Linked DNA regions of Homo sapiens: region 2 is linked to region 1. The links come from fine-mapping of genetic effects on plasma protein levels. A gene starts in region 1. The other region holds a variant in brackets. All regions are shown on one strand. Distances are between the middles of the regions.

The links. PIP is the chance, under the fine-mapping model, that this variant and not a neighbour inherited with it causes the effect. Protein levels are from the aptamer-based SomaScan assay of Sun 2018.
Region 2: its variant is fine-mapped to the plasma level of the TMEM132C protein (Sun 2018, PIP 0.95). The variant lies in the coding sequence of TMEM132C. If it changes the protein, the assay may bind it differently, which can mimic a change of level.

Annotation. Positions count from the first base shown.
Region 1 is chr12:128,265,560-128,268,461 of GRCh38, forward strand. It overlaps TMEM132C (transmembrane protein 132C), which reads left to right and starts at 1,611. Exons shown (of 9, transcript NM_001136103.3): 1 at 1,611-1,928. The coding sequence starts at 1,844. LOC107987176 (a long non-coding RNA gene) reads right to left here and starts at 1,473. Exons shown (of 2, transcript XR_001749176.1): 1 at 1,012-1,473. RefSeq lists enhancers at 757-1,278, 1,814-2,652.
Region 2 is chr12:128,614,895-128,617,796 of GRCh38, forward strand. It overlaps TMEM132C (transmembrane protein 132C), which reads left to right. Exons shown (of 9, transcript NM_001136103.3): 4 at 1,258-1,441. Among named protein-coding and RNA genes, the nearest start is that of SLC15A4, 210 kb to the right of the region's middle. The variant C/G (reference allele first, on the strand shown) is at 1,318.

The sequences.
Region 1 (2,902 bases):
GCTGAATGTACTGAAGAATTGGGCGATTATCAGCATAATCCACTTTAAAAATCAAGTCTCTGCTATCCAGGCCTATGAGAATCAAGCTTTTACCGTTCCCTTTGGGGCCTGGATAGTTTTCAAGCTGCCTTCTCCTCACATCATGTGAGTAGAGCCGGCCAAGAAAACCAGGGAGACATCTCCCCCCAGCCTGGCCCAGACTTCCGGGCCCCACCCCAGGAGAGAGCCTCCCACTCTGGCCAGTGCCCTGCAAAGCCTTCGCCCCACCCCGCCCCAATTTCTCCTTATGCCTGGCTCATTCCTTAGGGGCTGAGTTGGGAGATAAGACTTGGGGTTGCAGTTGCTGGGGATCATTCGTTTACATTTCTTTTCTTTCAATCAAGGACTTCTTTTTTTCTTTTGAAATTCTTTCCTGCACTGATGGTGAGAAAAGACCCCTCAGGCTTCCTTTTGATGTTGGACCGAGCCAGCCCACGGTGAGAGGGGATGCTGAGCCCGTGGTGAGGAGCTCAGGACAGGAGGGGACGTCCAGAGACCTCCGAACCCATGGCCCTTCATTCCCAGTCACAAGGGGGGAGTCGGGGTCCCGCCCTCAAACTGCTCAGACCACGCGTGGCAGAAAGAGCAGAGCATGAGCATCAGGAACCGCACAGGGAAGCCGCTGAGATCACCTGGGATCACCACCATGAGGGAGGCCAGCCCTGGAGAAATCAGAGGGAAAAGATAGAGAGAACGAAGTCGGGGGGGGGGGGGGGAGGGCGGATCTTCCTTGTCTGAGTCTGCAGAGAAATTGCCTATTGCAGGAGCAAGTCTAGAGAGGGGCTATTCTCCACCCACTGAAAAGATAATAAAACACATGCTATGGGCGGCGGGGAGATGATTGGGGAGTGGAAGCCCCACAGACATGCAGTGAAAAATGATCCTTTCTTCCCCTCTGCGTTCTCGTCCCCTTCCCAGAGACACCGCTGTGATCTCGTGCCTCGCCCCCTCCGCACACGCACAGGTGCACACCCGCATCTGTCTTGAGCCCGCACCCCGCCTTCACGCTCCGCTGCGCGCTGCTTTTCCGCGCTCAGTGATCCAGTTAGGAGCTCTCCCCGCAGCAGCTGCGCGGGACTTTGCATTCCAGATGTCCCCAGCCCTCCAGGCTAAAGCAGCGGCCACCTGAAGTTGAGGAATGGGGCGTGACGACCACCAGGTCCCGCAGTGACCACGGGAGGGTGGGGAGAAGGAGTCCAGCTCCGCCTTGAGCGTCGGGTCCCTGGGCAGGACCCTCCGGGCCACGGGCCGCTGTCCGTTGGGCACCCGGGCAGGAGTCTGCGAACGCTGAGTTTCTCTGGAAAGGCGCGGACCCCCGGAGGAGCCGTCCCAGCCGCCTGGGGAGACGCCCCCTCCTCTCCCGGTCTTCTTTCCCGGGCACACCCTCCCTAGCCCGGGCGGGGGGGTTCTCCATCTGCCGCCCCTCCCGGCGGGCAGGCGAACTCTCTCCTACCGCACCCTCAATCTGTCCGCGGTCGCGGGGCTCGGCGGGGGCGGGGCCCGGGCGGGGGCGGGGGCGGGGCCGGGGGCGGGGCGGGCCGGCGGCTGCGGAGGCTGCGGAGGCTGCGGGAGAAAAGTTGTCCCGGCCGGAGCGCGAGCAGCGGCGGAGCCGGAGCCGCCAGAGCCAGAGCCGGAGCTGCGGCGGCGTGGACCCGGCAGGGGCGGGCCTCGGACAGCAGAGACGCAGCGGGCCCGGCCGACCGGGCTGCGGGAGTGGCCCCGGGCATGGGGCGGCCGGCGGGGGCCGCGGGCGGGCGCTGCGCTTCGGGCTGGCGGCGGGCTGCGTGAGCGGCCGGGACGCAGGATGCGCTCCGAGGGTGCGGCCCCCGGGCCGGCGGCGCCGCTGTGCGGGGCGCTGAGCCTGCTGCTGGGCGCGCTGCTGGGCAAAGGTAAGGCCGGGGCGGGTGCCTGGCGCGCCGACGCATGCGAACTTCCCGGTTCCGGGGGAGCTCGGGGTGAGGGCAGCCGAAGCGAGGGGTGCGGCGGGGGCCTCGGCGGGGGCTCGGATCCCATCAACAGCGCCTCTGCGGGTGCCGAGCCGCCCCTAATCCAGAAGGGCGCTCCCAGCTGGGCGCCGGGATCCGGGCAAGTTAGGCTGGTCCCGAGTCCCGAATCTCCCACCCCGGACCCCCCAGACCCAGAGCTGCCCCGCGGATGAGGAGGGGGCGTGGCTGAGGGACACGGTGTTTGTTCCCCATCCCTGAGTTCCGTGCGGACCTGCCCCAGCCCCAGCACAGTCACCCTGTGGAACTGGCATCCAGGAGAGGTGCTCCGCTCTGTGCGCTCCTTCCTCCCGGCTGTGTGCTCCCTGTCCACAGCTCCCCATCCACAGCTTCGGCACTGTGGGGCTGGTGCTCCAGGAGGGAAGGCCCGGTTCTTTGCATCCCCTTTCCGCAACCGCTAGGGTCTCTGTGCGGGCCCTAGAGGAACGCTCACTCATCGCGCAGCTCACCAGGGACCCCAGCTTGGCAGAAACCAGGGGCTCTCTGCGGGTTCTCTCAAATGAGTCCTTTGCGGTGGGGGAGCGCGGATGGGGAGGTGGGTGCGTCCCTCGCGACGGGAACTACCTCACCAGCGGTCCTGTCCGGGGCTCCTTCACCTCAGTGTCCTCTTCTCTACAATGGGAGTGACGGCCCTGCTTTGGGTTGGAGGAATTTAAAGGAGTTAACGTATGGCGCCCGCAGGGCTCACGAAAGGTAGCCGTGTGGTTTTTCCGACCTTTTTTATTATGTGCGTGTGCGGCCGAGTGGCCGCGCGGATGCGGCGGCGGGAAGGGCGGGGAGAGGCGGTCTCCAGCCCCAGGAGCCGCGGGGCAGGCGGGGAGCAAGGCCTAGGCTCTGCCAGGGCAGCAGCTGCCCGAGTC
Region 2 (2,902 bases), 350 kb after region 1:
CTCTGCAGAGGACTGTTGTGGTGGAAACACCACTGTCACCCCTCGGCATGATGATGTGAGGGCCTGGATGCCAGGGGCACCCCACAGCTGCCCCAGGAGAACCAGGGCCACTGTGCTCACCAGAAAACCCCAACTGCCTTCCTGGCTGCTGCTCTAGAACCCACTTCTTCCTCTACGTCCCAAATGAGTGGGTCCGACTGGAGCAAACTGCTTCAATCCTGCATCTAGCAGCAAGGGGTTCTGAGAATGTAGTTTAGGCCTCTCAGCCCCTATAGCAGAGGAGGACAAGCAGAGGGGGTTGAAGGTGCTATTGAGTGAGTGGCCTACAGCAGTGGTCCCTGACCTTTTTGGCACCAGGGACCAGTTTCATGGAAGACAATTTTTCCACAGATGGCGGTGGTGGGGGAAGGATGGTTTTGGGATGATTCAAGTACATTACATTTATTGTGCAGCTTATTTCTATTATTATTACATTGTAATGATAATGAATAATGAATGTTGAATAATAATGAACTAATTACATAAGTCACCGTAATGTAGAATCAGTGGGAGCCCTGAGTTTGTTTTCCTGCAACTAGACTGTCCCTTCTGGGAGTGATGGGAGACAGTGACAGATCATCAGGCGTTAGATTTTCATAAGGCGCACACAACCTCGATCCCTTACATGCGCAGTTCACAATACAGTTCATGCCCCTATGAGAATCTAATGCTGCCACTGACCTGACAGGAGGTGGAGCTCAGGTGATAATGTGAGCTATGGGGAGTAGCTATAAATAGAGATGGAGCTTTGCTCACTTACCCGCCACTCACCTCCTGCTGTGCAGCCCTATTCCTAACAGCCCATGGACTGGTACCGGTTCATGGCCCAGGGGTTGGGGACCCCAGCCTATAGCATCTGCCACACCTACAGAACTGAACAGAGGCCATTCAGGTGCATACTGCAGGTGTGAGATAAACTAGTTTAGCTCATCATCTGCAGAGCTGGTAATAATCATTCCAAGGCCTCATCAACACAGACACAGGTTACTGCTCATTGTTGAATATTCTTGGCCCATATCCTTAACTTGTGGGTGCTTCTCTGTCCCAGATGCCAGTCCTCACTTTGTAGGTGGTTCCATGCCCCAGGATCCCCCACCAAAACCCTGGAGCCATCCCTGAGATGTGTTTCTTTGTCTTTATCTTCTGCGTACTATTATGAGGAGAGAAGGGTCCTTTGAACAAAGTTGGCTTAAAGCCAGTTTCTTTTCTCTCTTCCAGGAGCAGCAGTTTATTCAATGAGGTTGTGCAGATGAACTTTGAAATAGCCAGTTTCAGCAG[C/G]CTTTCAGGGACTCAGCCCATCACGTGGCAGGTGGAGTACCCACGGAAGGGGACCACAGACATCGCCGTGTCCGAGATCTTTGTCAGCCAGAAGGACCTGGTGGGCATCGTTCCCTTGGCTATGGTGAGTCCTGAGTTACCTTGGATGCTCCTGCATTCAGCCACCTGACTGCATCCTGTGTCCTTCCTATCTGTCATGGGATGTTTGCTACAATGATTTTATGGAGTGTTTACTTTCAAAGTTTCTCGTCTTTCCTCACCCTGGAAGTTGTTACTTTTCATGAGCCTGGCCTTTCTCAACTTTAGTCATGAAGTTTAGTCCAGCAAGTCACAATCATTGCTGGAGGTGGAAGTGAGCACCTGTGATTTTAAGAAGCTCACCAGGTGATTTCAGTGTGCAGCCAGGGTTGGAAACCCCTGAGCTAAAAGGATGGTCAGCTTTGCCATCTTTCTGCAAACTCGGTTCCTTCTTGCTCCCCACTCCATGCTTGAGATAGATGCCCTTCATCTCCTCTTTCCTTAGGATGATGGAGCTCACTCAGCATTGAACTCTCAGAGGCTGTCACTGGGCTGTGAGGTCAACCTGAAATGTAGAAAGTAGATGAGTGACAATGGGCTTGAGTAGTGCAGCACCATCTATCTGACTCACAATGTGGCCACTCTTAGATTACTGTTAGTAGTGTACACTGATGAGAACGTGTAAGCAAACATGCTACTTGTGTGAATCATGCTATGAGAAATGGATTAATCAGGATTATAAGAAAATGGATTATTCAGGATTCTTTGAGTTATAAAGGCTACAAACACAACCCAACTTCACCTTGGCTCATGTAAGTTTAAAAGTCTAGAAAAGTGTTTCTCAAACATTATCGGGCATGCAGATCACAGGAACATTTTGAGTAGATGCCCATCCTCACTTAGGAGGTCTGGGTTGGGTACTTATTTTTCAAAGCTCCTAAGCCATGTCAGCGCGGCTGGTCTGCAGACCACACTTGGAGTGTGAGGGGCCCACGTGTGCAAATGATGTGGTATGGACAGTGGCTTCTCTTCCTTTCTCAGCTCTCCTTCCTCTTTGTTAGTCACAAGGTGGCCCCGGCAATGCCACGCTGGCTTCTTCACAGCATCATGTCCAGCAAGAAATGAGTGGAAACCTCACTGCCAATCACTCCAGCAAATCCTTTGGGACAGAGACTGATTGGAACTGATTGGCTTGGGTCATGAGCCCAACTTGAAGCCAATCACTGAAATCAAAAGGATGTGTTGCTCTGATTGGCCAGGCCTGGGGAATGTATCACCCTGGGGCAGGTGTGGAATCAGGTGAAGGAGATGTAGCAGCAGGTGGGACAGGTGTAGCATCAGGTGAGGCAGGTGTGAAATCAAGTGGGGCAGATGCAGAGTCAGGTGGGACAGGTGTGGAATCAGGTGGGGCAGGTGTGGAATCAGGTGGGGCAGGTGTAGAGTCAGGTGGGACAGGTGTGGAATCAGGTAGGGCAGGTGTAGCCTCAGGTGGGGCAAGTGTGGAATGAGACTAAGAGCCTGTGCATCATGGAAAAATTTGGCTTTCACTGAAACAGGGAACAGATGC